Homo sapiens: one gene and its partners. The protein of the gene in region 3 interacts with the protein of the main gene of each other region in a pairwise test. Each region holds a gene or a part of one and is shown on either strand. Other genes may lie near its edges. The genes, in order: NBPF19, MGAT5B, DMRT3 and ASPG.

Region 1 (8,404 bases), on a different chromosome or scaffold from region 3:
CACATACTGTGGCCAAGCGAATGCGGGTTTTTGGCCCATCATAGATGCCAGAGAGGGTGTGCCTCCTAGATATTCCTCATATGTTACCATCCATTAATTGTTCCTGAGTATTCAGTGTTACCTGGGGGCAGACGATTTCTGCACTTTCTCAGCCACCTCAACTTGAACATCTTCATCGTCATCGTTGTCATTTTCTGTAAATACAGAAGTGTTCGTTCAGATATTTCCCACTTCACAGTCTGCAAGCACAGTCAGCCCAATGTGCAACAGAGACATGAACATCTAGGCATGGGTCACCGTTCAACTGAAAACTCTCATGTTTTATCTTTAACAGAATGCCCTGCCATGGTTTCCTGATCCATCAGGCAATGCATTTCTGATCTGGAGGGCCACCATCAAGATGTGGCCAAATATTGAAAAGACCTTTTGCTTCCCATATCACTGGAGGCTTGTGCAGCCTCTCTCTGGACGTTGGCAGCTGTCTCCCCCATCCTGCCAGATCTGATTCCCAGGCACAGGCTTGGTGTCCTGTCACGGTTTGCATTTCAAACCTCATTCTTTCTCTTAGGAGAGGACAAACTTGTCCCACAGTCCTCTATGCGTCATGAGACTGCACAGGCCCTCCATGTGGCTTCTGCTGTGTTATTCAGGGACATTCTATCCATGGGGAGTGCTCCAGTCTGAAGCACTTCCTACCACCAAATGCCCCCACATCAAGTGCCTTCTCCAACACCACATGGAGAGGGGCTTCATCTCATTTTGAAAAGCATTCGTAAGTGTTCCCATATTTGGATGCTTCAGACCCTTGCAAGAGACAATTTGTCTGCCTTTGCAGATGGAGAGAGAGAAACTCTGAAAAGATAAATCACTCACTGACACTTACTAAGAACACTGCCAAAAATACAGCCTGGGAACCTTCATTCTTAGCCCAGAGCTCTTTTCACTCCAACAAGCGCCCTTCCATCACAGCCTCCTTCCTGTCCTTTAAAACTAGATAGATGCTGCCTCTTGCTCCAAAGACCACCTTCCATCAAGGAAGGAGGGACACTTGCAATACTGTGACCTCCAAACCCATGGGTTTCCCATCTCTGTTCTTACCCAGGAAGTCCTGATCATGTCATGGCCACATAGGTGTAGTAGAAAAAAACCCCACTGATATAACTGTCATTGTGAAAGTATGGAGGTCTGGAGCCTCTCATAAGCCTGGGGTTTTGGGTCATCAGGGCCTATGGCCACCTTACCTGGGCTGAGCTTTTGGACAAGGTGCTGTGCCAGTCTACACCCCTCAGCCAGCTGTTCTTGGAGGTCCTGCCCCTGGGACTTGTCCGGCTCATCCGGAGTGAGGAGGGCCTGGAGATGCTCATTCAATGAGCGGGAGGCATCTCTCCCTTCCCGTAACTTCTCCCTTAACTGGGTCAGCTCTCGTTCCTGAGAGTGAAACAGGACTTTATATTGCCTAAGGTGAGACGGTAGAGAAAATTTAAGAGTAGAAAGGGTTGAGTGATCCGTTCAAATATTGCAACAGAGACTTCTGAGACAATGTCCTCAAGGAGACCTCCAAGCAGAAGGTCAGCACATGTTGAAAGGAATGACTGTGGCCAAGAGGAAGAATAGAAAATGGTCTACAGGCTTTCCCTCTATCAGAGAGGGCTCCTGCAAGATCCTCGATGATGTTCCATTCATCTTTCTCTTCTGTAAACAAAAGTAGGTGTCTTCCTAATTCCGTTTCAAAAAGACATCCTTTCAGTTCCTCACTCTGGCCATGGACATTTCCATGTGAAAATACACATAGTGCATCTTGCGGCCACTAAATACAAAGCCATGTACAGAAATGAGGCCAGGTGCAGATGGGGCGAATTGAAAAGATGAAAGAAGAAAAGAAGGACAGGGTCAAGAAGGCAACATTGATTGAGTGAAAGAATGAGAAGACGCAGTCAGTCAGGAGGTGATTCTCACTAAGGGTAAGTGGGGTGGTGATAGCACACCATTTTGATTATACTGAATGCTGCTGGGTGGTTCCCACTCCTTTGGTGAATTTTGTGTTATGTAAATTTCACCTCAACAATTACTTGTTTGAAAAAGAGAAAACAAGGCTCTAAGAAACAACTGCAACACAGAACTTATTATTATCCTTGTTCACTGATAAATATTTGTGTGTCATGAGCCTGTCATGGCAATTTCTGCCCTTCCCCTGGCCCAGCTTCGTTCTTATTTCTCCCCGCCGAGCTGCTGTACTTCAGAGATCTACACACCTACCCGCCTGCCCTCCCCCCACGGGGTCCCCTCACCTGAGCTCCTCAGCTTGCTTCAGCTGCTCTGCAAGCTTCTCCTCCTTGAACTGTCGCTCATTCCTCAGCATAAATTTTATGAGGTCTTTACACTCTTCATACTCTGAGAAAAGACAGACACGCCTGCCTCAGTGGAAGGCTGGACATGCTGCTGTGGTCACTGCCTACAGGGCAGGAGCCAGGTCCATCCCAAGGACAAAACTCTCCCCAGTACCAGGGTCTAGACAGGGATTTCCACATCTTTATTCTTCAGTCTCCTGACTTTCTGGCATCTGATCCTCCAAAATTTAAAGACGAAGAAAGAGAAACTCAAGGGCGCATCAAGGAAGTTGACAAGATGATTCAACCACAACGAAGTGGAGTCAGAACTCACAGCCCCTGAGGTCTGACTCTGAATGCGGGGCCACTTTCCCAAGTCTTGCAGCCTCTCCTCTAAAACACTGCACTGGGGCATGAAGTAGTGATTTCTTGTACAGTCGGGAAGGCCCCTAGGACTATGGGACTGATGGTTTCCCTTTTACTGGGTATTTCAAGGACAAATATGTCAAGGACTTTAAAAATATTTCATTTTTAAATCAATATTCAGATATGGTTTTAAGAATCATATCTGAAGCATAAAGTGTGAGATATAAGACAATAAGGCCATGAAGGAAATATGCCCAAATACTTTATTAGTATGAGAGGCAGCATTAAGATTTAGATTAGTTGTGTTAATTTAGAAACAGCATTAGTTTGTGTTAATTTAGAAACATCAGAATGAAGAACTAATAGATAGTGTTTCCACTGTGCCAATTAATGTTCAAGGAGATTGACAGGAAATACCTCATGTAATTCATTGCAGCAATTTACAGAGGTAGGTATTATTGTAGTACCCTCTGAACAGATGAGGAAACTGAGGGACAGACAAGACAAGCAACTTGGATGGAGCCCAGGAGACAGGCTGAGGGTCCCTGCTTTGCACACTGCACTGCTGCTTCCACACATTCTCCGGTGTGATCTTTCCTCTTTAGGAACAAGAGCCTGTGCACCAGGAAGCAGGACTTCACTCTCACCAAGGTACTCTCTGCTTTTTATTTTTATTTTTGATTTATTTATCTTTTTGTTTGTTTGTTTTTTGACGAGTCTTGCCCCGTCACCCATGCTGGAGTGCAATAGTGCAATCTTGGCTCACTGCAACATCTGCCTGCTGGGTTCAAAGGATTCTTCTGCCTCAGCCTCCCGATTAGTGGTGATTACAGTTGCCCGCCACGATGCCCATCTACTTTTTGTATTTTTAGTGGAGATGGGGTTTCTCCATGTTGCCCAGGCTAGTCTCAAACTGCTGACCTCGTGCTCTGCCCGCCTCAGCCTCCCAAAGTGCTGAGATTATAGGAGTGAGCCACGTTGCACGGCCCCTACTCCCTGCTCTTGATGCTGTCACTTATAGATAGCACAGGTTCTATTAGGAGCAGACTCCCCTTGAAGCCCCTCAGAGCAGGTACTGGCTACTATCACCAAGTTCCCCTCAGAGTCACTAGAACAGAGCTTTGCCTGTTGGGCCTCAACAGAAACTTGAACTGAATAAAAGTTCACTAGTCCTAGACATTTAGAACAACAGACTAGATGTTATTTGTCTGCAGGATCTTATATGGTACAGAGAGGATTCTTAAAAACATGATTGAGCCCCTTGGAGAAAACAGGTCATTCTGTGCCTGTGTTAGAAATCAATAACTGTGAGTTTAACTCTAGTTCCACCCCCATCTGATTGCAAACATGGAAAGTTGCTAAATACTTTGGCACCTCTGTCTTCCAACTTTAACAAAATGTTAAAATACCCATTTCTGTTTTCCTAGAAGTACAGGAAGGATGAAATTATTTTTGATGGAGAGAGCATTTAGTGTCTCAGAGAGAAGACAGGATATCATTCATCACTTTCATGATGGTGAGCCTATAGATCTTACTGTATTTCTTCTGTCGGTTGGCCAGGAAGCCGGCCAGTTGAGTTAGAAAACATTTCTCTTTGAGGTTTCTGAACTGCTGTTTCTTCTCTGCCAGCTGGGGGCGCAATGTCTCGTTGATTTCTAGAATGTTCATCTCTGCCTTCTCACTGGACCAAGGGCCGGCTGATACCACCATGCTGACGTTTGTGGCAGAAGAGGTGGAGTCAGGGACTGGGGAGAAGAAACCCAAACATATGATGGGTTAAAAACTGGTGAAATCAAATCGGTTTAATCAGGACTGAGGGATGTCAGTAACTGAAATTCTTAACTTACTGTTGTGAAAAATGTGATCACTCCCCACAGCACTTTAGGATCCTTCACCACAAAAACAAGGTTCGAGGTGCCTCAACTCAGAGCTGAAAGCACTGCCAGTAGCTCAGACTCTGATAAGAGTGAGGCAGAATGTGGCCAGCGTGCCAGGTAACCGTCTGCAGTTGCAATAACAGAATTAGAAGGTGGGGGTGTCATGGAATCTTAGGAGCTCTGCATTCCAATTGCCCAGGCTTTGCTGAAACACAGGCACCCTACTTTCACCTGAGGGTCACCACCAATGGGGATCATTCCTTCAGCATTCACTCTCAGTATTCGTGTACCCTTGTGACAATGCCACAGACCCATGTCTTTCCCAATACATCTAAGCATATTCCTCACTGTTTATCTCTTGTCTGTACAACATCATCAAGGCAGAAACAGTTTCCCAACAGGTTATATTTTCTTAATGGTAGTCATGAAGTCACCCCACCTGCTCTCAGTTAAAACAGAGCTTAAGGCTTTTCCACAGGTGTAAGATATCAAACTTTTAGCCTGCCCTGATATCCTCTGGGTCTTCTGCAGTTTTTTCTGTATCCACTAGAAAGTGAATGAATAATTCATTTTTTTAAAATATTTTCTTTCCTGTCTCAGTATTCTTGCTGCTGCATCCCATTGTTAGATTGATTTCCTCTTTCTTACTGGGGCACCTTCTTGGGTTTTCATTACATTCTAGACCAGTTTGACATCCCTACGTCCAAAGCTCTTCCTCTATGTGGGTTGATTTGTTTTTTAATGTCACTGAGCACTACATTTTATACTTGTCACTTATAGATGTCATTCTAGTGCCACAAGACCTCTTTTCAAGGTATCAAGTGATCAAAGTCATTTATATAGAGGTCTCCTGAAAACATGTGTGACCATCTATCTTGGGAAGTTTTGTAAACCTGATGCTATTTTGTTGTTTCCATTTTGTTTTCCCATATACTGAAAAGAACAGGGCCACGAGCAGTTCTTATGGAATATGGTTTGATATATATTTTGTTGAGATGACCTAACACCATTGATTTTGGGTTGCATTCCACTAACAGAACATGGCAAGATCAAGGTTATGGTCAGGGTTGGTTGGCGATCCTCAGTGTTGCTGTGCAGTAGAAGGTGAGTTTGAGGTGAGAGGAACAAGTAGGAAAGAGTGATCCCCTGAACCACCTCTTCGCTTTCTCAGCTTTCATCCCCACCTAGGTTTTGTGAGCCTGGAACTTGAGAGACTGTTCTGTAGCCCAGGTCTCCTAAGATTGGCTGCTGGACTTGCCTGAGTTGAGGGTGCAGTGGGTTGACCCTGGGCTGCCCAGCATTCATGTGGAAGTGAAGGAAGGAGGACTGGTTAATCCCATTTGAAAGCATCCCTCTCTGCAGCCCGCACCATCTTCCAGTGACACTGTAAGGATACTGCTTTGAGATGTATCAAAGGCTTTAAGTCAATGTATTTTCTAGGGTCTGGGAGACCTGACATTCTGTGTCAGAATGAAAATCTGTCAAGTTTCTAAATGAAAAAACTGCAGGTTCACAAAGTGTCATGGGTTACTTGAGGTCACAAAGGGATGAGTTTTCAGCACTGCCAATAAAAGCAATCACAATAATTATTCAGTAATTATTCATAGGATCCATACAATCCAGTAAATATTCACATATTTAGTAATTATTCATTGACCAATTCGTACAAGGCATTTTGCTCAAAACTGTGTTTATATTTGGACATTGTATCTTCATCATAATCCTTAAGGTAATGCTATTATCTATAAGTAACAGATAAGAAACCTGAAGATGAGGGACAGCTAATCACGTATTTGGCCATATTTCCATTTTTTGGTTTTTGTGATGCTGGAAGAATGACCAGAATGGGTCACGGGAAGAGTATTCATTCCTGTATTATTTTCCAGGACAGAGGTGTGCCCTTCTAGAGTACTGGGACCAAAATTCAGAAGTGTCTGAAACCTTGCTTTAACAGTATGGGAAATAACCTCTATCACCTGGAATTTCCCTGGAACTTTGGAATATACAAGAGAAGTATGAGACGTGGGTCTTCCCTTGGCTGTGTTTAATTCACTCTTCTATGGAATACCAATGATTCTCACTAAGACTTTTGCCTTTTTATAACCACAATGTATGTCTTATGGAGAAGATTGTACACTTTGCTCTATTTAGAAAGAATAAATATGAGCAATAGTTTTAGGTTTTATGCCCTGGACTTCATATTTTTCTGATTTCTGTTTTGAGATTAAATTCTCATGTAAATAGAAAAATACTTATTATTTCTCATCAGGCCAAGTTTGTTATCAGCTTGAGTTTTTGAAGATGAAGCACAAACTTTTGATTTTATCTTTGTCCTCATCAGCGCCACTCATTGTCTCTCAGTATGACCTGGACTTGCCCCTGCATTTACCCTCATCCTGCTGAGCCATCTCCATGCACTGCCCAATTCCATCAGTGATTCGGGGTCCTCCCAAGGCTCCCTGAAATGTGCACAGGGATCAGGACGTCAGACACATTCCAGACACAAAGGCAACCCACACTGTAGAGTGAGCAGCTGTGTTCCCACTTCCCTAATGTTCCAGTGATGTCCTCAAACTGAAGGGAACACTTTCCCTTTTTAAGGGTCTGTTCTTCATGTCTCAATGCCTCTGATCTAGTGAACACAACTGTCCTGAAACTGAAAGAACCTGCTAAATTTCGAGTTTCTGGTTAGGTGGCTAGAATAGGTTTATAAGACTTCCTTACTTACCTATGACTGCTGAAGTTTGAATTCTTAGCAGTATGATTCCTTTTCTTGTAAGCTGAGCAGCTTAGGAAAGATTGGCCATGTTGCTGTGCAAAAAGAGGTAAACTTAATTTATACTCAAAGCATGCTTGAATTTGGAACTAGGGCTTCCACTCTTCCAAAGCTGGACTGTCACTACCTCAGGCATGTGTCCCAAAGGGCTCATGTCTCTGTTGTACTCAAAGTTCAAATGGAGCCCAGCAAGCCAGATCTCCTTTACTTCTAGGTTCCCTCAACAGTTTCTCCTCTGCTTTAGAGACTGCCTTGAAAATATTCTTGTCCTGCTGTTGTGTTTTGGCTTTGGAATGATGTGATGCAGCTCAATGGGTCCTACCCCCAAGTTGATCAGAGTAAGAAACAGCTGGGAAAGTCAGTGCAAATTCAAGTTCATCGTCCTCCTTACAGGGATTCTGATTCAGAGGGCTCAGGTGGGGCCTGGAATGTGTTTGTTAACATGACTCAGATGTGCAGTCAGTTTGGGGACCCGCTGATACCATCGACCTTATAGTTTATGGGATGATTCTGTTTTGCTGATAAAGAAACTGAGGCATAGACAGTCTGTAACTTGCCCAAGTTCCCCTTGCTGTAAGTCCTGGAGCCAGATCTCAGGTGGAGCAGCCTCTTCCCCATCCCCTTCCCACATTTTCCAATTCAGCTGGGTCAATTCTTTCCAAGTACGTGTTTCTCTCCCCTATACCTCATTTCTGAAAAAAGGAGAACTGGAATTTAACTTCTTTCATCTAATACATTTCCTCACAACATGCTGCCAGCATCATATTCTGGCCTCTTACTATTAAAGTGAGATGCCTTTTTTTTTTTTTTTTTTTTTTTTTGAGACAGGGTCTTGTTCTGTCACCCAGGCTGGAGTGCAGTGGTGATTATAGATCACTGCAACCTTGAACTCCTAGGCTCAAGTGATCCTCTTGCCTCAGCTTTCCAAGTAGTTGGAACTCTAGGCACACATCACCATTTCTGGCTAATTTTTTATTTTTCATGGAGACAAGGTCTTGCTATGTTGCTCAGGCTGGTTTTGAACTTCTGGCCTCAAGCGATCCTCCCACCTAGGCCTC
Region 2 (7,720 bases), on a different chromosome or scaffold from region 3:
GGGGCAAGGGGACTGGGGCCTCTGCCCGCTGACCCCTGTGTGACCAGGGCAGTCATTGAATGGCTCTGAGCTTCAGCATCCCCGTCTCAAGGCAAGAATAACAGGCCCCGTCTGCAGACCACAGGACCAGGAAGGTGACGAGAGAGGCCACTGAGAAGAGGCAGAACAGGGAAAGGAGAGAGGGAGCTAGAGGCAGTGGGCGGAGCAGGGGCAGCCAGCGGCTTCTGCATCACCGGGGCTGCTCTCACACCTCTGCTTTGGTTCTGCCCTTCTTCCCTGGCTCTGGCTGGCCCAGCCACTGCTGCCACGTTCCCACCCTGATATAAGTCACCCCCTGGCTGGGCTCCCCTGCCAGGTGAACCCGCCTGAGGTCAGAAGGGAGGCCACAGGAGCTGGGGCGGGACCACTCACACACCTTGGAAATGCCGGCCAGGCTAGGGCTGCAAAACAGGAGAAGCTGCGATTTCCTTAAAGACACAGGGCTCCTGGCTCTGAAGAACAGGCATGAATGGGAGCAGGGGGGATGTGGCGGGCAGAAGAAAAGGAGGAGAGAGAGGCAGAGATGCCCAGGAAGGCTCACGGAGGGGGTCGGGTATTGGAGAAAATGGGCATATTTCCTCCCCACCCCAAGAGCTGAAGCAGCAAAGGACCTCCCCACAAGTCCCTCTACGGAAAACAGAGTGGATTTTCAAAAACTCAGCTGGGACCGGGAAATTTCATACTAGCGTTAGATGACACTAACTCAGGTCTCTCCAGCCTCTCAGGCCCTCCCCACGCACTCACACACTCAATCGGTTAATCTGGGCAGCCCTGGTGAGCCATCGCTCATAACTTGGGCTGGAGTAGTCCTTCTCCAAAGGAGTGGGAGAAAACAGGATATAGATAGCTCCCTCTCTCTTTCAGCTTCCCAGAGGCGGGGGCAACGGTTTACTTTTTCAGATCACTCTCGTTTCAGAGATGTCTGCCCAAGCCCATCATCCAAATTCAATACCGAGCTTGCAACCAGTGCTTGTAGCACAGAGTAGATGAAGAGATTTCCATCATTTCAGCTAAAAAAACTGGAGGACATCAGATGACCTGCCTGGCCACTGCTTTCTACAACTCCACAGGACACCACTGGTATTGTGGCCGCCTAAAGGGTGTCTGTCGTGGAGTCGTGCAGCGCACAGCCTGCGTGGCCTCACTGGGCAGCCCTGGTGGGCTGTCGCTCATAGCTCGGGCTGGAGTAGTCCCTTCCCCAAAGGACTGAGATGAAAAAAGGAATGTTTCATCCCATAAGGTGTCTCACAGCTGGGACACCATAGCGGTGCCGTGGCCAGAGCACTCAGGCCTGACTGACCACAGAGCCTGGTCAGCAGCTCGTTCCTGCAGACGCAGCACCCCAGTGGTGCTGAGCCCACAGCGTGGCTTTTGGGGTGACGCTGTGTTCCCTGGAGCGCCTTAGGCCTGGCACCCTGCCTGCTGCACTACTGGTCCCACTCTCCAAGCCCACCCCAAGCTTCCTCTGCCCCTGCCTATCGCCTGAGCCCCCTCCCAGAAACCTCACGGTCACAGCTCCCTACCCACACCCCACGCTCCCAGTCCCATTGAGCAGGCTGAAAAACAGATGATGGGCCAAAAACTATGAGGGCTGGCCTAGAGCTGCAGAGGCCCCTGAAAGTCAACAAAGTGGAGGCTGCAGCAGCAGCATGGTGGCATGGGCCCAGTCAAGGGGGATGGGGCAGAAGCCTGGACTCCAGGCCCGCTCTGCTGCGGACCAGACAGGTGAGCAGGTCACCGTCCTTCTCTTGGCCTCAATTTACCCTCATGTAAAATGAGGGGGCTGGGCTCATTGAGCTCTGAGTCTCTATCGCCCTGACTTCTGTTTCTGTGTCTTCCCCTAATTGCCTCCGGAGATTAGAGAAATGGGAAAAGAAAGAAACGCTCCTATAAAAACTGGCAGCAGGCCAGGTGCAGTGGCTCATGCCCATAATCTCAGCACTTGGGGAGGCCAAGGTGGATGGATTGGTTGAGCTCGGGAGTTCAAGACCAGCCTGGGCAACATGGCAAAACCCCTTTTCAATAAAAAATACAAAAATTAGCTGGGCATGGTGGCATGTGCCTGTAATCCCAGCTACTTTCAGGGCTGAGGTGGGAGGATTGCTGGAGCCCATGAGATTGAGGCTGCAGTGAGCCACGATTGCACCACTGCACTCCAGCCTGGGCAACAGAGCGAGACCCTCTCTCAAACAAACAAACAAAAACCCTGAGGACATACAGAGGCATGGGTCATTGCAGCCTGGGTTTCACGATGACCATGCCTGCGGAACCAGATGCCCCTTCTGTAGTTCTTCAAGCCCCACCCCATCAGACTGGACCAAGTCCCCCCGTGCCAGGGGCTCAGGAGCTGCTCCCATCTTCTGCAGATGGCATGGAACTCCAGAAACCCCTGAGACCTGGGGAGACAGCCCCTACCCCTTCCCAATGAGCCCTCGGGGTACCAGGCACATTTTGTGCTCTGGAAATGCCCAAAGACTAGGCAGGGGGTGGGTACCCAGGAGGGAAGCAGGTCAGGCCGACTCTCCCCCAGTGACCCACTCCCCTAAAAGCCACCACTGGCCCCGGGACTGTCAGCAGAGCAAGCTGACATCGCTTCCCCAGAGTCACTTCACCACTCTTGGCATCAGCTAAATTGAAATATATCTAATGTGAGGCCCCAGTGATACAACTCAGAACAGGCACACGTTCCCTCCATATTTCCATATAAATAAGGAAAGCTGGGACGCTGGGAGATACAAATAGATCCTCTCATTTACAGACGGGATGTGTTTATTACCCACCGAGGCCCCGTCTCCTCCCCAGACGCTCTTCGTCTCTCTCTGTCTCTCTCATCCTCCTTCGTCCCCCTTTTCTTGTCCCCATCCCCACCCTTTACCATTGGAAATTGAATGAGCCCCCATCTCTCCAGAAAGCAGAGACCTCCCTGGCACTGAGAAGGGAACTGTGACTGGGTGTTCGTGCAGCTGGAGAAATGCGCACATTTATCTCTCTGTACTCGCTCACCGCAGAAACCAGCTGAGGCCACGGGAGCTCTGGGCTCCGGGCAGCAGAGAAGACAAGGACAGGCCGTGGGAGGCCACACCAGGCTCTTCCTCAGACCTCCGGGCCCCGGTCCCCCATCCATCAAGCCTGAGAGAAGAGCCCCAGGGCCCCTTAGTACCAAGGGCCAGAGCCAGAGCCAGAGCCATCCACAGAGCCAGGTAGCCTTCCCCAGGTTCAATCCCTGGTGGAGGCCTGGGAGGTCTGGCAGGGCCCAGTAGACACATGCAGCTGTGCCATGGACCTTCAGCCTACAGACCCCTCCCAAAAGATAGCCTCCTACCACTACTTTTTTTTTTTTTTTTTTTTTTAAGCCGAGACAGAGTCTTGCTCTGTCACCCAGGCTGGAGTGCAGTGGCGCAATCTCAGTTCACTGCAACCTCCTCCTCCCTGGTTCAAGCAATTCTCCTGCCTCAGCCTCCCGAGGAGCTGAGATGACAGCACGTGCCACCACACCCTGCTAATTTTTGTATTTTTAGTAGAGATGGGGTTTCACCACGCTGGCCAGGCTGGTCTCGAACTCCTGACCTCAGGTGATCCACCTGCCTCAGCCTCCCAAAGTGTTGGGATTACAGGCGTGAGCCACCACACCCAGCCTCCTACCACTGCTTCTTCAAGACAAGTCAGAGGGCAGGAAACAGCCTCACAGCACTATCTGCAGCCACATGGGGAAGGAGGCCTAGGCGAGAAGGGCTGGAAGGGCAGGAAACAGGAGGAGGACCTGGGGTGGGAAGTGGGGCAGAGCTGCCTGGGAGGGGGCAATGCCGGAAAGCCCTCCCCAGAGCCCAGGCCCAGCCCAAATGCAGCAAGAGGGAAAGAAGTCAGATCTCCTCCGGGTCATGATTCCCCATGCAGCCTCCTCTCTTGAATCTTTAAGATGAGTGTGCAGAATACAGAATGAGATGTCAGTCACATTTCATCCCCAAAGTACGCAGTTTATCATGAAGTATAAACAGGCACAGAGGAGAATTTGGAGGCCCCACACATAGACCACAGTCCACAAGAGGCTGAATGACGCCCTCCTCTTCTTTTCGAGAAAAGCCTTCTCCTCCCTCTCCCTTCGCAGCCACAGTCCATGTGGGACCCCACTTCTGTCACCGGTTTGACAGGGGAGGAGAGATTGTTTTTCCCATTTGTACACAGATTGTTTTGTTGACCAATGCAATTTTTTTTTTTTTTTTCTAAATAGCAGGGCCTTAGAGGGTTTCCTTCTCCTGATTCTGCTCTGGGGTTGTCTAGACTCCGCAGATTTCTTTTGGGTAACAAAACGTGCATTATCCAACAATCCAACCTTGGCCCAGGACTTCCAAGATCCCTCCCCAGGCCTGATTCAGCCAAGCAATTTGCCAAGCACCTCCCCGTGAAGCCCTAATCCTTCCCTCAGGCATCTCCTAAGTGGAAATGCTGGTACCTCCTAGGTTTTCTGCAGGGCTGCCCCAGGCACTGCGTGGGGATGTAGTTTGAGGGGCTTCTCTTGCAGGATCAGGATGTTAAACCCACATTGCACACTGCTTTCCCGGCCTGAGTCCCTGCCTTGGGTCTGCCCAAGCAGATTAGCTTGATCCAAGGGTATGAAAGAAATCATGGAGGACAATGCGAGTCGGGATCTAAAGTGAATCAGGGTCAGCTCTCCTGGGTTCTCAGCGGCCCTTTTCTTGTCTGTCTCCTCCTTCTCCCGGACTTCAGTTCTGTATTCCAGGCACTCAGCTTCTGAGGCCTGGGAAATGTGAAAAGACTGGCTTGGATAAACTTGGTCTGAGAACTAATGTTACAACACGTAGAATCTCCACTCCTAGGTATACCCAACAGAAATGCCTACGTATGTTTACCAAAAGACGTGCACTGAAATATTCATAGCAGCACTGTTCGCAAAAGCCCAAAACTGGAAACGACCAAATGCCCACCAATGGTCGGATGGATAAAAATATGGTGGTGTACTCACACAATGGAAGGCTACACAGCAAAAAAAAAAAAAAAAAAAAAAAAAGTGCAAGTGACTACAACCGCATACAAGATAGTGAGTCTCACACATGTACTACTGAGAGAAAAGACACACACAAAAGACTACTCCTCTATTAGTTCATTCTCAACGTTGCTACTAAAGACATACCTGAGACTGGGTAATTTATAGATGAAAAAGGTTGAATTGACTCAGAGTCCAGCATGGCTGGGGAGGCCTCAGGAAACTTACAATCATGGTGGAAGGGGAAGCAAACATGTCCTTCTTCACATGGCAGCAGGAAGGGGAAGTACCGAGCAAAAGGGAAAAAGCCCCTTATAAAACCATCAGATCTTGTGGGAACTCACTGACCATCACAAGAACAGCACCAAGGTAAACCACCCCCATGAATCAATTACCTCCCACAGGGTCTATCCCACAAGAGGTGGAGATTATGGGAACTACGATTCAAGATGAGATTTGGGTGGGGATACAGCCAAACCATATCAACTCCTGAAACGATTCCATGCTCACAAAGTCCAAAAAACAGGCAGAACTCTTCTATGTGATCAGAAGTCAAGTCGTGACTATCCTTGGGTGAGTAATGACTGTGAAGTGGCATGGGGACACTTGGGGACTGATCACGTTCTGGTCCTTGCTCTGGGTTGTTAGTTGCATGGATTGTTCATTTGTGTATATGATACCCCATTAAAAAGTTTAAGACCACGTACACGCACACACACATGCACACACATGCACATGTACACACGAATGCACACACACCTCTAGTCCAATTGTATGACCTTGGGCAAGTGCTCTCCTATGTGGTTCCATCCATCTTTAGACCCAGACCTGCAGCTGGGGTTGGACCCCCACCCCCATACCCAGGCAAAACTGCATAGCACCGAGCACAGCAGGGCTCCTACACCCCTTGCACTCTGGGGCACTGAGTCTGATCCTGCCCAGATGGGGCAAGAGCCATGGGGTAGGTGAGTTACCTTGACTCTCTAACCCCCTTAGGGAGATAGGCATAAAAACCAGAGCCCGGCCAAAAACCCCTCCTCTCCCCCATCCCTAATTCCCACCTCTTAGACCCCTGACCTTTCTGGAGGTTCAACTTCCTCAAGGCCTCTGTAGCAGCCCACCCAGATAGGCACACCTCCTTTCCAGGGGTGGCAGCCAGGTAGTTTATGAATCTCTGTCTACACCCCATCTTCCCATGCACCACTTTTCCCACCAGCCCTTCCCCAAGCCACCCTTCCGGTTCACCTTCACGACTGCTCCCTCCCATCCCCACCCACCTCAATCCTCAGCCTCTCCCACACAGACACTCCAGCACCTCCTTGGTCCTCTTTCATAAACACGCTTTGCTGCAGTGCCCCCATTTCAGACTCGACACATCCATTAAGTATTGATGGAGTGCTCGCCGTTTGACAGATGCTGCTGAGGCCCCTTCCCTTGCTTTATCTTTGCACAGCCTCGCAACGAGCCTGGGAAGTGGGTATTACCATCCCCATTTACCAGAGGAAAATTTGGAGGCTCAGAGATTGAGGAATCTCTGCAAGTCAGAGACGGGATAAATTAACTTACACTCAGGCTTGAATGACTAATAAGCGTGAGATTCCTTCTGAGGGCTTTTGCAAGTTTAAAGAAGTGCATGTGAAACCAGAGGAATGAATCTAATGATGAGATGACAGATGGCATAATAAGAGCCCCTCAGCACCCACCCAGATGACAACCTATTTAACTTGGGATGTCTACAATATTCATCACTCAGAACAGGGGAGCCAGAAAGCCAAGCCCTGCAAGTTCAAGAAGGTGGACTTCAAGGAGAGACTTCCCCAGAGGGGCAGGGGAATCTCACAGAGCCAACCCTCGAACAGTTCCAGAAACCTACTTGCCTCAGTTTCCCCACTACCCCATGTCCCTCCTTTTGACCAGTGACCAAAAGAACCCCCATGATACAGTGAGCAGGGCTCAGTTCTGACCCCCACCCCTCCTTAGGTGAGATGAGGTGGGGCTGGGCCCAGCTTCAGGAGGAGGGCTCCCAGCTGGTCACTCTTGTGCCATGTGGCACCAACCATGCTGGGTAATGTCCACGTGTGAGCCCCTTCAATCCAACCTCTGCAGAAGGTCACTGCTGTCCTTCTCTGTAGGGAAGCCAGGTGACTCAGCCAAAGGCACACAGCTGGTAGGTGATGACAAGGATGCAAGCCCAGACCCACCAGACGCCCAAAGCCCATGCTCTGATCTCCATTCCACTGCCTTGCAAATATCGTGTGGGCAAGGAGTGATGGGGCCTGGGAGGGAGCTGTGTCCCAAGAGCTCAGAGATAAGACATTTAAGCCCATGGCCAGGCCCGTTCCCACATGGCCACAGCCTGGGCCAAAGGCAAGGAAATGTGTGCCTCAAGGAGACAAGTGTCATATCCAGAGACCTCTCACCCCTGACACCCAACTAAAGAAGCAACACTGGCAGCCTCTTCTGAGGCCTGGAAGACCCTGGCTTAAAGGCCCTAGCCTGGCCTGAGAATCCAGGCCAGAGGAAACCTGATGACCACAGCCAGACCAGAGCCAAAGTGCATGGAGGGTCATACGGCCCAAGCCCAGGCCCCCTCCACTCACATCCACCTACAGGGCGGCCAGAAAGCCAGGTACAGGGCTAGGCTCAGAGGCACTTCCTCTTTGACCCACAAACGCCCTC
Region 3 (7,720 bases):
TTCAGCGTAAACCAACCAACCAGCTGAGCTCAGCACTGCTTACACTGTGTTCAAAGGAAAGACAAAGATGATGAAAGAACAAGCAGAGCACACCTGTGAGGCTTATGCACCTGAGCCGCACACAAGGTCCTGCTAAGTAGTGCTGGGTGAGCCAAATCCCCATCAACATGTAAGGCTGTTGGAGTTTCAAAACTAGGCAAAGGAAGACTAGCCTCTAACTTTGCACCAAGAATAACTCCTCACCAAACAATAATTTCTGAAGGGCAGGATATATAGTTCCTGCAATTTTGTGGCGCTATGGTGTCTAGTACTGGTTGTATTATTGCACCTAAACTAAATATATTGTAAATTATTCTATTATAAATACAGACTTTCACAGGTAATTATAGAGGGTGAGTTTTGAGCCCAGTGATAAAGTGTAATTTAATAACAGGTACTTCTTTACATCTCCAGATTTGTTCTTAAATAAACTTTACAAATCATTCTAGTTGGTTTAAAACATAAAGGCCTTTCTAGACATAGAAATGTGAAACTGCCAACTAACAAAATAAAATAGGAAATACTCCTGAAACATTTTACCTTCTTTCTTCTTGAAACTGAAACCCTAATTCCTAGAACATTAAGAGTGTATATCAACTGATAATATTTTTACCCCGGTAGATGGGTATAGAAAGTCAAAGCTATTAAACAGGGAAGAAATCAATTTTATCGAATATGACAAATATTACTGAAAGTGATACAATATGCTGTTTCTATTGCTAAACATGTACATATTTTTAAAATCTTAATATTCTCTCTTCCATTTCATATTTCATGGGGTAGAAACACTTATAGCTATCCCTGAAATAAACTGTGCACTAGGGTAAAGAGGTTTTTAAAAGAAGTAGATATTCAATTAAAAAGAAAAGTTTTTCTACAGATAACAATGCTACCGACTTCAAAATATATATGCCATAAGATGACTACAATACTTTTTTTTCTTTTTTTGCTACAAGACTTTAAAGAGAGAAAATAAACACTCACAAAAGTGCTTTCAATCTAAAATTACAGTTTGAAAATGTAACTTTCTTTAGGGGAGTTTTTCACATAAAAATGCAATTTAGTAAAAAAAAAATGTATTATTTCAAATACTTTGAGAAAGTCTACCACATATGAGAAACAAACATTCTGCTCACGATGCATAAAAGTGAAAAATCTGGCTGGGCGCGGTGGCTCACACCTGTAATCCCAGCACTTTGGGAGGCCGAGGCAGGTGGATCACGAGGTCAGGAGATCAAGACCATCTGGCTAACATGGTGAAACCTCATCTCTACTAAAAATACAAAAAAAAATAGCCGAGCATGGTGGCAGGTGCCTGTAGTCCCAGCTACTCAGGAGGCTGAGGCAGGAGAATGGCGTGAACCCGGGAGGCAGAGCTTGCAGTGAGCTGCAGATCTCACCACTGCACTCCAGCTGCGGCGACAGAATTAGACTGTCTAAATAAAAAAAAAAAAATGTGAAAAATCTTTCTGACTTAGATGTCATAGGTTATATCCATTCTATCCAATTATATCTACGAAAACAAAATAGTTCTTACATACAGAATGAAAACACAGAAAAACTCGAGCAGAGAGGAATATTTCCTAGCTCAAAAGTCACTGGACTCCCCCATCCCTTTTGAAATCATGTCACGCATTTTGAAACATAGATTGTCATATCCTCATCTGTTCACTTGAGCTGTGGGGAACACACCTGTAAATAACAGGTCCTTGATGGGTAGTTTTCAAAGCACATAAATCTTACAACAATGGCAAGGGAGGGAGCCCAGGCAGGATGAGACTTTTACAGGAGACCATTGCCTAATCAGAATTCTAATCGTAGACAAACGCTTCACATTTTCTCTTACCTTCATCTCACACTAGAAGTGATGAATTATTTTAAAAAAATGAATAGTTGAAAATCTAAAGAACACCAGGGAATGATCTCGATCTAAAAACTTTCCTTTTCTTCCTGGGGTGGATTGCCGGGTTGGGGAGGGTTGTGAAAAGTTAAAAAAAAAAAAAAAACTAGCCATGCTTTACTTTTTAAAAAATCATTAACAACACTGAATTAATAACGTATGAAGGAATCAGAGTGGTTCCTTGACACTATATTTTGGGGGAATATTGCTATAGACAGGACTGGGCTGAAGGAAGTATGGTTTGCAACTGTGGACCTCACATATTTTGTAAAAAATTAGTTTTGATCTCTTTCTTGACTCAGAAGGGAATACCTTCCAAGAAGCAGAGGGGAAATTACCTACAAATCTACATGTTTATTTGGTACCTTCCAAAATGCACCTGTCTAACTCATCCATCTATTTAACAAATGCCCCTAAATGCCTTACTATGCTCTCATGTACTGTGCTGGGTAAGATCATACAGAGATGATCAAAGCATTGCCTCTTGACCACTGAGAGGCATACAGTTTACTAACTAATCTTTTGCAAAATTCCAAGTAAGCTGCAGTTGGTTATATTTCACAGTGAAATACAGCAAATAATTCCAAGGATAGCAGCTGGGCAGACCATGGTGTCTTCACAGGAGGAAATATTGTTTTAAATGCTTACATATAAAGATTATGGGTGCTAGAGATATATACTGAACTAAACAAAGTAATAATCAGTGGGAAAAACGTGGAACACTAATCCCAGCTCTGTAAAATTTATGTCTGCCTAGTTGTTGTAATCAAGAGATTGGAGATTTTGTAAAGAATTGATGTGCCGACTCTTAAGTTTTTCATTATTATTATTGTTACTTGGTACTTGATTGTGCCTTTTATAGCTGTTTATGCAATAAAATGCAAAAAAACCCCATACCTAGTTATTTTAGTTTCCCTTCTGAGAACAGTAGTATGCATTGCTCAGGCAAGAGGATGACTCACTAAGGCGATGTGGGACGTAACTGACACAATCACAAGGCGGTGGACCTGTGAGGACCAGCTGTCCTATCACTGCATCCTCCACCTCTGCCATGAGCACCCGTGCACAAGCCATCAGAGCCACACAGGACTAGACAAGGAGGTCCAAGGACCTGAGCAGCTAATGGCTAAGGGGCTGCAACAGGTTTAAAGGCGGGAAGAAAGGAAAAAAGCAAGAGGCGAGGAAGAAAGGAAGAGAAAGAAAGAGGAGGCGGGCAGGCAGGGCAGGCAGGCCCATGGTTTTTTGCTGGGCTTAGTCCTCCTTCCCGTCAGGAAGAAGTGCAACATTTCCAGAAAAGGGCTCCGAGTCCTCCAGGGACTTTGATTTATGAAGATTTATTCCTTTTCTCTCTGTAAAGCTGTTAGCAGAAAGTGCTGACTGGCTGCAGCAAAGAATTTCTCATCAATGCTCTTTGATTGTATTTTGCAAACAAAATGCCTGTTGCTTGGTAACATTTCACTTGAGCCTGACCTTCTCCGAAAGTTATTGCTATCAGATTCGATTCACACTGTCCTCCTGTGATTACTGTAATCTTTTAAACCCGGGAGTTCATCCATCAGGGAAAAAGAAAAGTTGGTTGTGTAAGTCGAGAGCACGGCTATCCTCCAGATTTATAACACCAAGGAGTGATTTGGAGGTGGAGAGAGGTTCTTTCCCAGATGGCAGTAGAACTCTGGTTCCTAGACGTGGAACACACTCTCGTTTTTCCTGCCAAACCGTCCCAGATCCACAGGATGGACCCCAGCACCTCCCTGACGCCAGTCCCAGGCAGCTCGGGCTCTGCAGAGAAAGAACTAGGAGATGAGCACAGGCGACCCCACCGCCAAGGGGTGCCCTGCGTGGGTACTGGGGCTGGGTGAGGAAGGCCTAGGCCTATGGTTGCCAGATAAAATAACAGGATGTCCAGTTAAGTGGGACCATCAAATAAACAAAGAAGGCTTTCTAGAGAAAGTATGTCCCATGCAATATTGGCATCCTATTTTTTGTTTGCATGATTTTTGCAGAAGGTGTCAACTCACCTCGGGACTCCTGCCTTGGGAAGGAGAGGGTAGTGAAGCTCAGGAAGAGCAGAGAGGGAGTGGTGGCCCAAGAGCTGGGCAAGGGAAAGGCAAGGGATGTGGCTGTCTCTGGGCGGTTCCTGAGCTGCCTAGTGAGCTGCTTCCTGACAGTGACCAAGGAAAGAGCCGTCCCCAGCAGGCGGCGAGAAGCTGGGCTCAGCTGCAGCTCCGACCCCCTGGTGCAAGGAGACGGCAGTCCATTGCGGCCGCAAGGAGCCGCTGCCCCCTATCTTTGCCCCTACTTTGAACCCGCTGTGGCCAGGGTCCCAGTCCTGGGCCAGCTGCCGCAACCCTCCGCAACACACACACAGCAACTGCACTGCGTGCAAACCGGCCAGGCCAAGAGCTGGGAAGACCGGTCCCCAGCAGCATCCCAGCCCCAAGAGCCAGCCCTGGGGTGGGGTTTGGAAGAGACCTTAGTGCCTGTATGCGTATTCCTTTTTATTTGGTTGGGTTTTGTTTTTTAAAATGCAACTGAGTCAAGCCCCTCACCCTCAAATCAAGCTGTCTTAAAATGAGACCCTGTTTTTCAATTCACAGGTACACTTCATAAATGGTTTTTAAGTATTTCCCGCTTTTCTTTTCTTCCTAGCCAACAGTCAGAGGGTTTCTCATCCTGGCCTGGACGAGTGTTCCGTAACACCCATTACACTTGCAGGTGCTTCTCTTTGGGGGAAAAAAAAATTAAAAAAAAAGGAAGTGGACTTTGCGGGACCCAGTCAAGCCGGAGCAGAAAAGCCCAGAGGCAAGCATAAAGATGCTAGGAGGCGCAGGGCAAGAGGAAAAAATAAAATAAAGGCAGTTTTCCAAAATCTCCTAACTTCTCCCCCTATAGTTATCTTGTTTGCTCCGCCCCCACCCCCTAAGAAATAAACAGGAAAGAAGATCCTACTTTCCCATTTGATCCTTCTCTCTTATTCCTAACCATGTTTTCGATTTCTTTTTCCTTTTAAAAGCATTTAAAAGAATGTGTGTACATATTCATTTTGATGGCAGATGGAGACCTAGGAAGAGTCTACAGCCACAGATCTTTCTTCTCATCGCACCACAGTCTAAGGTGTCCGAGGACACTCCCCTGGAGGAAAAGTTGGGGGTAGGGAAGGGAGCCACAACACAAGAATGTAACTTTAGCTTTTCACCTTGGCAGTGACCCTTAACTTCCCTCAGCTCTTGAGCCCACGTCCTGAAAGGCTGGCTAGGCTGATTAAAACTGCTGATTCAGATACACTAACAGTTGGAAGATCTTCATGCCTCCTGTATTTTCATGGGGAGAAGGAGTATGAGAAGAACATAGAGGGAATTTAGGAGAAGAATAAATGAATTAAATAGTGTATGTATATATACATATATATATACACACACATATATAGCTTAAATTAGAATTTAAATTTAAGCTATATATATAGCTTTTAATAGATATATATAGCTTAATATATCTATACATAGCTTAAATCAAAATGTTCAGCTCAATCAAAATCTAATAATTAATTCCAGGTCCATCGTAGATGGTAATCAAAGAGAAGGAGAAATCTACATTCAAAAAGAAAAAAGAATACTTCATAACTAGAAGTAAAAACCACTAGAATATGAAAATTCTCCTTAAAAACACCACACATTGAAAGGGATATTCAACATACTACACCATTAGATAAAATAACCCCATTCCTTTAAAGAATCTAAAGCAGAATTTGAGAAAAAATTCTTCCAGTTACAAAACTGAGTTTTGATGTGAATATGTCACTCCCTCAACGGGGTGGTTTTCCTCCAGTGATTCACAGCAAACATACTCTTCCTTAAGGCATGTGCTTTTCTCAAAGATTTCTGGAGAGGAAAGACTCCATGTGCTTCTGTTTACAAGAAAAAAAAATCTCTCTTCACAGCTTATGTATTAAAGAGGTCCTTTGCCCCGCAAAAAGACTAACCACATTTCAAAGTCAAAGTTCACAAAGTAATAGATCTACATTGCCAGCAGATATTGAAAGATTTCTGATGGTCTGTATACTTAATGTACATGTGGAACTACCATTCCAATAGAGTTCTGCTTACTCTCTGCACTTAGTTTTGCTTACTCTCTGCACTTATTCAGGAGTAGTTCTGATATGCTTCTAAATACATATGGAATGTTATACACAAATACATTATTAGAACAACTGCAAAAAGGGTATAATACCTATAGCAACAGGCAGTCTCAGTGAGCAGTTTTCTTCAGCTTAAACCCCAAATAGACTTTATTTCTACAAGCACTGTGTAGAATGGATCCACTTGTATGCCTGTCTTCCTAAACAATCATCTATTATTTTCCTACCTTTCTCCCCACTCCCCATCAGAGTGGTGATTTGCTTTTTTTTAAAAAAATGGGAATTATGGGGTCACAGCAAGTGAAAGAAGAAAACAAAAGTTGTGTACATCAATGTACAAGGTATGGGGGGGTGGGGGTGACCAGCTGGAAACTGAGCCCTTGGTCCCTGATGCCTCGGTCCCCCAAAGTCCTCACTTGGACCTCGCCTTGTGATAAATCCTATTCTCCTTTGCAATTACTTGTTTTCAATTCGGAAGGCTCAGGCTATCCCTGAGTGCTAAGTAGGAGTAAAACAGCACAGCTCTGCTTTGTCCAGTTGAGATCCGTTTCCTTTTTCTATTCTCCCAAAGCACGTATCCTGCTGCCGCTGCCTACTCTGCCTTCCTGCCTGCCCTCACTCCTCCTCCTCCTGGGGTTGTGTTTTTAGTTTTGTGACTCTTTAGAAATCATGAACTTTAGCTATCCCAAAGAATACTCTGAAGAACACAGGATGTGAAAGGCATCTCCTTGGATAAAAACCACAGAACCCAATGCCCGATCACAGGAGTGCTGCTGAGTTAACCTCTGATGTTAACTCAGGCCTCTGCCCTAGTCCTGGGGGAAACGGAACCAGAGAAGCTGGAAATGGAAAAAAATTAAGAAAATATATTGGTACAAATCCAATTCTAGAGCTGAGACCAAACTCTTCCTTGTTATTTGTTCAAACCTATGGGAGAAAAATAATAAAACCTTTTTCTCCTCCCTCCTCTTCGTCTGTGACAAATCCATAAATATAAAAAGATGAGACAGACAAAAGAGAGACAACTGGCGATCATTTCTGAGAAACGTTTATATGCTAACTTGGATTAAATATCCACAAAATCCAAGTTCGGCAAACTCTCTTCAGGCTTTAAAATTCCCAGCTCTACTGTCACACAGGCTGTTCTCAGAGCTTCAGGCCTGGAAAGCATGGCGGAAAGACAGGGCAGCAGAACTCCACCTGCCAGTCACCCGTTGACTCACCATGAAACAGGTGAGTCCGCCTCACTTCCTCAGCTCCACAGGATCCAGACAAAGCAGTCCTGGGCTCCTGAAAGCCTTTCTCCGAAGCTAGGGGTACCGTCTTTAGGGAGTTGGCAGGTCAGTGTAGGTACCAGTTTTGCCACAGTTCTACTTACAGGAGGGCTCTGGACCTTCCCACTCCTAATTCCAGCATGCCCCCTTCCGGGAGAAGGTGGGCTGTGTTCCTTTGCACATTTGCCCCAGTTAAGGAGAAACACCAAACACATATCCACTGAATTCCAAGAGCCATCAAAAGAGCTCTTGAGCTGGGCAGAACCGCAAGCTAGAAATTCCCCAGGAAGAGAGAGACTAAGAGACTCAACTCAGGCCTGCCAAGCTCAGGAGGCCTGGATGGAAACGGATGGGTGGTGGGGGATCAGATTT
Region 4 (7,720 bases), on a different chromosome or scaffold from region 3:
CGGGCCAGAGCGGGCTGGGTCCCCTCCCAAGGCCAGCCCCACTCCCTGGCCCTACCAGCTCAGGGTCTCCAGGGGCCCCAAAAGCCTCCGTCCAGCCCCAGAGGCTGGCAACCCAAGGGTCTGGGGCCAGCTGTGTCTGAACCCCACCCTCGAGGAAGAGTGGAGAGCAGGAGAGGATTTCCTGGCGACAGTTAGGGGAGCCTCAGGTCTCCATGCAGTCTGAGAAGGCACAAGGACAGGCGGAGCCTGGGCTGGGAGTCCAGTGAGGGCTGTGGGGAGCCTGGGCCCAGAGCTGCCCTTCCCCACTATAGGGAGCCACATCCCTCCCCTTCCCAAACAGGACACACCCTGGACCGGCCCCCAGGCTCTTCCGGCATCGCCCCAGACATGCCCCTGGGAGCCAACTGACATGCTTGTGCACACCGAGGGTTGCCCACAGCCCGAGAGCGCCCGCACCTCCTTCCTGACATCCAGGCTCAGCCCTGGCTGGCCCAGCACATACGATAGCTTGGCCAGGGCGGCCTCCGATGTCATGTCGAAGCCTGAGATGACGCCGGCTCCCGCCATGGCCTGTGAGGAGGGGGCGTGTGGGCAGGAAGGGCGACTCACCACGGCCCCCAGCCCATGAGGGGTGGGTCAGAGCCCACCTCTGCCAGGCCCTCAGGCTGTCCCCTTCCCCGCTAGGCCCTGATCTCCCGGCACTACCATGCCAGCTGCATAGTCTGTGGTCACAGCCCCCTGGAGGCAGTGGGTACAGTTGACGATGACCAGGCCGCGCTCGGTGGCCACCCGCAGCTCCTGCAGCAGGTCGGGCTTGGTGGGTCCGTTCCCTGAACCGAAGGTCTCCATGACCACGCCCTTCAGGGGAGGCTGCAAGAAGGCCCGAACCTGTGGGGCGGTGGGGTGGGGGCTGGATGGTGAGGGTCTCTGCCCTCAGCACCACTGAGACTCGCCCCATGCCCTCCCAAGGAGAGGGACCCCAAGCCAGGGGCAGCTGGTGCCTGCTCTGCTCCCGGGACAGTGGGGCTCCTGGCAGACGTGCATGGCTGCTGGCACCTGGAGGGGGCTGCTCCCCCCACATTCTCCCAAAGGGTCGCCCTGTCTGTAGGGACGAAGGCTTTGTGTGGCAGAACGCCGTGGAAACACTTCAGAGAGGTGGGAGAGGAGCCAAGAAGGCCATCAGAGGCCCCAGAGCAAACACCCTTGTCCAGCACAGCAGGGGCGGCTCCCAGCCAGCTGGAATCTGCGGGAGGACGCTGCCTCTAGAAAAGCATGGAGGACCCCGTTCTGGCTGTGAGCCGCGCCCCAACCCTGCCCACTCCCCGAGAGGCTGGAAAGCACCACGACGGAGGACAGGGGACAGGGCCTGGGGCTGGTGGGGCCACACTGCAGACATCTCAGGTCCACGCGGGGTCTGCACTGGCTGGTGAGGGCCCCAGGGAGCCTGAGGGCCGTGGGAGCTGCAGAGGGCTGGGGCTCAGGGCTGCAGGGGCAGGATGGCCGGGGCGGTCCCTACCAGGGCGGCAGGGATCCCAGGGTAGAGGCGCAGCAGGCCCACGTCCTGCTCCATGCTGCTGTGCACCACCAGCCCAGCCTTCCCGTCCACCTTCCGCACCAGCTCCCTGTTGACTGAGGACAGGGAAGGGCCTGTGTGGTGCCTTCAGGCCTCCTGCCAGCCGAGACCCCAGCCCAGTGCCTGGCCCTCTGCACAGGCCGCCTCCTCCCTTGTTTTCAGAGCCCTGAGCCTTCGCGGCTCAGCCCCCTCGCCCTGCCTCCTCTCCCGCAGGCAAATCCTCCCGGGCTTCCGCGCAGTCCGGCCTGTGCCAGGCTCCGCAGCGTGCACGGGGCTGTGGGAGGAGGCACTCGTTGGCCAGCGAGAGACCGATGGCCGAGCAATGGGCAACACAGTCTCAAGGGTGAAGCCCAGGGAAACTCCGCTGGCCAGGCGAGGGGCAGGAGGGTCCTGCAGAGATGGAGGCCCGGCTGTGTCTTGCAGGCCGCATGGGGGCGTCAGGCGAGCGCAGAGGCGAGGAGGGCAGGCATGCCCAGCTGGGGAGCCACCAGCAGTCACTGCGCTGGGTTACAGGCATGGGGCAGCATCGTCGAACCAGCCAGCCTCCTCTGCCCCTTGCCAGGCACCCACTGTGCCCACTGCCCACCGGGTCAGTGGTTGAATGAGCGAACAAATGGACTTTCGGACCCCTCACCTCTGGGGAGAGAAGGCCTCCATCCAGTTCACCCCAAAATCCTAATGTGTGCCCATCACCCCCTCCCCACACCCAGGGTGGGTGATGGTGGAGGTGCAGGCCCCAGGTGAAGTGGGGAGGGATGGCTATTTGGGGTCAGTGCCCCTTGAACCCGTCCATGCAGAGGGGCTCCCCAGAGGACATGCTTGTCCTCGAGCTGAAGGCCGCCACTCTGGCAGCAATTGAGCCCCCAGGGTTCTGCCGACTTTCCCGCTCCATGTGGGTGGGGGTGGGAGGCTGATGCCACAGGCCCGGCCCCCAAACCCTCAGAGGCCAGCGCCAAGGCTGAGGTCCATTCCCTCTGCCCCTCTCCACACTCATGGCAGCCTCCAGCAGAGCAGGGCTGGACACTGGGGACTCCCACCACACTGTGAGGTGTCAGAGCTGCCCAGGGCAGTAAACACCCTGGAGGCTGGAGAGCCCAGCCCAGGAAAACCGAGGCCCAGGGGTGGGGAAGGGCCTGGGCGCCTGGAGAGCCCGGCACGGTGCTGGGACAGGAACCTGGGCAGGAGGACCCCCGCACAGGGCTCTTCCTCCTGCCCACAGGGAGATGTCACCCACATGTCTCCGGCCGCTTCCGCTAGAGCAGCTTGCATGCGATAAAAAGGACTTTCCTGGCATGGTGGAGCTGAAGGGGGGAGATGTGGGGTGCTGGGGATGAGAGAGGGGGGAGCGGAGCCCCCAGCAGTGAGTCTTCCACCCCCACCAGAGCCCACAGCATCAGTCAGCCCCACATGATGGCAGCGTGAGATGCCCTTTAACTGAGGGCGTGTGTCTCAGCCGGACAAGCAGATAAGGCATCAGCACAGGAAAGGAGGGGGCACCGCTGCCACTGGCAAAGAGTTATGGCTGAGAGGGGGCTACACAGAGACAAAGAGGGCCCACACCCACCCCGCACTGACCTCCCGCCTCCTGAGAGTCTGTGGATGCCACCCTTGGGATCCCAGTCCTTCCTGCCCAGGCCTGCTAGAGGCCAGGGGAATCGTGACCCCACACCCGGGGGCAGAGAGGAGCGCTGGTGGCTCCATGGCCAGGTGAGGCCTGCAGGCTCAGCCCCTTACCCCCAAGAGGGGCTATGGCCCTGTTCTACAGATACGGGAGCTCAGCACAGGAGCCGAAGGGTGTAGTCTGCGGCCTCAAAGCTGGATGCGGCACAGCTGGGGTGGCTGGGTCACGTCTGGGAGGGAGGTGGCTTCTCCCAGTGCACAGAGGAGGGCTCTGGGGCTCTGCTTTGGGGTGACCCAGCGTAAGGACCCATGGCTGGTGAGTGACAGGCCTGGCCTGACCCCACAGCCATATCCCCTTCTCCACCCTCCTCTGCTCCAAGGGCCCCAGCAGAGTGGGCCGGGGTCAGGGCTCAGCACAGAAGGGTAAGGGTGCAGGATTTGCCTGGGGGTGACAGTGTGGTCTCCTGAGACACATGGAAAGGACAGGGCCAGCAGGGCCTCCTCCAGCCTCCCACGCATCCCCCCACCCCTTGGCGCCGAGCCGACTGTGGACAGGAGCACCAAGCCCGCCCATGACTCCCGGACCAGCCCAGCCCCTCACTTCCCAGACAGTGGGTAAAAAGCCCAGGACAAGCCCTCGACAGGGTGCTGGCAGCTGGCACCCGGGCCCAGGCCGGCATTGCTACCCCCAGCTGGCTCAGAGAGGCTGAGGGTGCACACTGCCAACCTGTGCCCCTCCCCAGGGGCCCCAGCAGCCACGCCCTGGGCAAGGCCTGAGGTTTCTCAACACTGGGTGCCAGAACCGGCCCGGCAGCCCGGCATCAGTTTCCCACACCCACACGCACGTGGGAAACACTCAGGGGTGGGGGGCTGGGGCCAGGGCAGCCTCCCACCCAGACCAGCCTTAGTGCTGCGCCCAGGAGCTGCCCCACGGCCCTGGGCCTGAGGCCGGTGTGTCTTGAGCCTCGTGGCCTGCCCGGGCTTAGCACCCGGTGCTGGCGGAGTCCCTGGAATCCAGAGCACGGTCCTCTGTGCACTGTTGGGGCGGGGTCCACCCACCAGCAGAAGCTCCACTCCTGAGCCCCAGATAAGGTGTGAATCAGGCCCCATGGGGGAGCCGGGCCTGCAGGGCACCACCCACACCTCTTGCTGCTCCTTCTCCCTGGGCTGGAGGGGCCGAGTGCCAGCATCCAGCATGGGCAAGCAAGCCAGTACCCTACCAGCACCAGCTCACAAGCCACCTCCTCCAAGAAGCCTTGAGGGCTGCCCTGGCCCTCGGTGAGCAAGTGGGCCCCTGCCCAAGCCCCTGAGACCCGGTGTGCTGCACACACAGTAGACACACTGATGTGTTCTGGGCCTCACACTCCCTAGAAGGTGCTCCAGGGAGCAGCAGGAAGAAGGGACAGGGTGTGAGCCCAGGACAGGAGGGAACAGCAGGAAGAAGGGACGGGGTGTGAGCCCAGGACAGGAGACAGCGCACAGGCTTGAGTCGGTGCCTCCCTGTGGGAGCCTGCCTCTCTCTGCCTCCGTTTCTCACCTGTAGAACCAGGCAGTTTCCTCTGTCCTGTCCTGCTGAGGGGCCCTGGGGCAACAAGCAAGTCAGCCACCGAGCCCGGACTCCCACACACAGGCCTTGTCTTGAGATCCAAAGACGCTGCCTCCACCCGCTTCTGCTGACGGCCCCACAGCCAGACATGCCCAGAGCCCCTCCTGTCCCCCGACTTCTGGTAGATGCTCCAGGAAGGCCCCTGCCCTGCCAGACCCTTCCCAGGGCCCCCTCATGCCAGGCCCTGAAGCTCCCCAGGGTCCTTGCCTGTGTCTGGGGATTCTTCCAGGAAGCTGTGCCCCAGCAGCCCATAGCCCAACCCTTTCTCCAGGAGGGTCTGCTCCTCCTTAAAATGGGGGAGTGGGGAGCCTCTGCCGCACCGGGAGATTCCCTAGGAAGGGCCTCCCCAGGCGTCCAGTGACCTTGTGGGCTTGACCCACCAGCCCGCCATGGCCCAGGCCTGGACAGAAGCCCAGTGTGGGTGAGGGGGCGCCTCCACCCCACCCGCCCAGACAGGAACAGCTGCTTTGGTCCTGGGCAGGCAGCCCCACCCAGCCCCGGGTGAGGTGTCAAATGCCCCCAAAGGAAGGCCAGTGCTGCCAAGCCCTGGAGCCTCCCCGGGGCTGGACCCCACCTCAGTCAGTCAGGATGAGACACAGGGCAGGTTTGGGGCTGCCTTGAAACAGCAGGGGGCCAGGGCAGGCAGGATGCATCTCCCAGGAGGGAGGGGATGCTCCCGCTGCCTCAGGGAGGGGTGCTGGCGTGGGGTCAGGACTGGCCATGCTGGCCGTGGACCTGGAACAGGCAGGGGCCGGGTAGAGTCCAGGAAGCAGGGGCTCCCTCAGCAGGAGCACACCCCAGACGGAGCGACGGTAGGCCAGGGAGTGACTTCCGGGCAGGCCACTGGAGTGGCCCTGCGTCTCAGGTGAGGCCTGGCAGGGCACCAGTCTCTGAGAACAAGCTCCAAGGCTGCTCCTACAGCCAGGGCCAGGGGGCGGGCTTGGCCCCCCCAGGGGGAAGCCTCAGGACACAGGATCGCTCGAGTCAGCCCCACAAGGATGGCTGGGCTGCCCGCCGGAACCAGAGGACAGAAAGACTCCCTGAAACTCCTGGGGACGAGGCTACGGCACACAGAGGTGTGGCAGAGCCAGGTGGTCACTGGGGACCTCCTAGGCCTGGGGCGAGTGGTTGGGCAGGACACATGAGGGCCAGATGCCCCAAACCTCTCTTCCAGGCCTCCCGCCTCTGAGCCTGCAGGGACCTGAGGAGGCCCCCACCTCTGTGGCCACGCAGCAGCCCTGTCCACGCAGCCCTGGCTTCTCCACAGCCCAGGGCAGAACCAAGCCAGGGCAAGTCAGAACCAAGCATGGTGCTCTCAAACTCTGCCGAGTCCCAGCCACGAGCTCCCTGCAGCAGCCCCTCGCCCAGCACCAGCACTGGGCAGGCACCTGGCCCTGCTCCTGCGGGGCTTACTTGTGATGTCAGCACCCACTGTGGCCAGAGGCAGCAGGTTCGGGGAGCAGAAAGCTGCGAACCTCCGAGCGTCTACCTTGGTTGCCCGGTTGCCCCGAAACAGCTGATTCTGGAAGAAAAGGCAGACCTGCGGGAACGGAGCGACAGAGTTCAGAGCAGCGGCCACCCTGTCCCCGACCCATCTGCCCTCCAGCTTCCTCCCTGCCATCAATGAGGTGCCCAGACCCAGGGGGAGGTGGGACTGTAACCCCACCCACCGCAGGCAGAGACCTTCCTGGGAGCAGGTACTGCCCCTCTCGGGCCCTTTCCTGCCCTGCCACCTACCCGTGGGCTAACCGGAGCCTGCAGGGGCCTGGGGACCCCAGGGCCTGGGGCGTGCAAGTGGCTGGGTGGCAGGAGGGTACCGTACTTCCTTCCCTTCCCACCTGCCCACTGCCCCCAACCCTGCTTCTTACAGAGCCCTGGGAACTCATCCCAAAGGTGCAGCGAGCACAGCTGCTGGAGGCCCCTGCCCACGGTGAATGGGAGTCCCTGAGGCCCCTGCTCAGGAGCCCGTGTGGGGGCTCTAGTCAAGCTGCTCAAGAGCCTTGGGTAAAGCCACTGCCCCAGGGTGGGGGAGATCTTTGCACACTCCTTCCTGGGACGCCACAGGAAACAGGGAAAGACATGGGGGAGGGAAAGTGACACCCTTCAGAGCCCTGCTGGCTGCAACCTGTTTTTATAGAAACTTCCATACCTATCTCTAATGTAAAACCTCCATACGTATCTCTAACGTAAAACCTCCATACGCATCTCTAACGCAGAACCTCCATACGTATCTCTAACGCAGAACCTCCATACGTATCTCTAACGGAGAACCTCCATACGCATCTCTAACGCAGAACCTCCATACGCATCTCTAACGCAAAACCTCCATACGCATCTCTAACGCAAAACCTCCATACGCATCTCTAACGCAGAACCTCCATACGCATCTCTAACGCAGAACCTCCATACGCATCTCTAACGCAGAACCTCCATACGCATCTCTAACACAGAACCTCCATACGCATCTCTAACGCAGAACCTCCATACGCATCTCTAACGCAGAACCTCCATACGTATCTCTAACGTAGAACCTCCATATGCATCTCTAACGCAGAACCTCCATACGTATCTCTAACGTAGAACTTCCATACGTACCTCTAATGTAAATATCCACAACATAAGATCTAGAAGACAGTGCACCCAGCTATTGGCAGTGGCGTCTGGGGAGGGGCTGGGGGGACTTTGTTTCCTGGCTGCTGTCTGGGCTCCTGCCCCCACCCCACCTGCCCCGCCTCCACGTGCACCAGGCAGGTACCTCTGGGATCACATACTGGCCAGCCATGAGCAGTGCCCCCAGCAGGTTCTCACGGCCGTCGCTCCACAGGGCATGGATGGGCACCTGGGGGAGAGGCCACGGAGTAGCTGAGGCCTGGGAAGCCCAGAAGCCTGGGATGTCTGGCTCATCTCTCCAGGTAAACCCC

Evidence for each region.
Region 1: the proteins of DMRT3 (region 3) and NBPF19 interact in a two-hybrid assay, tested with the Homo sapiens proteins (one large-scale study listed by BioGRID).
Region 2: the proteins of DMRT3 (region 3) and MGAT5B interact in a two-hybrid assay, tested with the Homo sapiens proteins (2 studies listed by BioGRID).
Region 4: the proteins of DMRT3 (region 3) and ASPG interact in binary tests that used the Homo sapiens proteins (3 or more experiments, as listed by UniProt).

What each region holds. Positions count from the first base shown.
Region 1 is NC_000001.11:149,471,932-149,480,335, reverse strand, and holds the start of NBPF19 (NBPF family member NBPF19), read right to left. Parts: upstream 5,292-8,404; 5' UTR 4,541-5,291; intron 4,439-4,540; 5' UTR 4,404-4,438; coding exon 4,229-4,403; intron 2,392-4,228; coding exon 2,289-2,391; intron 1,457-2,288; coding exon 1,242-1,456; intron 195-1,241; coding exon 122-194; intron 1-121.
Region 2 is NC_000017.11:76,872,999-76,880,718, reverse strand, and holds part of MGAT5B (alpha-1,6-mannosylglycoprotein 6-beta-N-acetylglucosaminyltransferase B), read right to left. Parts: intron 1-7,720. UniProt on the Homo sapiens protein: Glycosyltransferase that acts on alpha-linked mannose of N-glycans and O-mannosyl glycans.
Region 3 is NC_000009.12:978,234-985,953, reverse strand, and holds part of DMRT3 (doublesex- and mab-3-related transcription factor 3), read right to left. Parts: intron 1-7,720. UniProt on the Homo sapiens protein: Probable transcription factor that plays a role in configuring the spinal circuits controlling stride in vertebrates.
Region 4 is NC_000014.9:104,097,472-104,105,191, reverse strand, and holds part of ASPG (60 kDa lysophospholipase), read right to left. Parts: intron 7,639-7,720; coding exon 7,555-7,638; intron 6,340-7,554; coding exon 6,213-6,339; intron 1,630-6,212; coding exon 1,517-1,629; intron 889-1,516; coding exon 706-888; intron 571-705; coding exon 457-570; intron 1-456. UniProt on the Homo sapiens protein: Exhibits lysophospholipase, transacylase, PAF acetylhydrolase and asparaginase activities.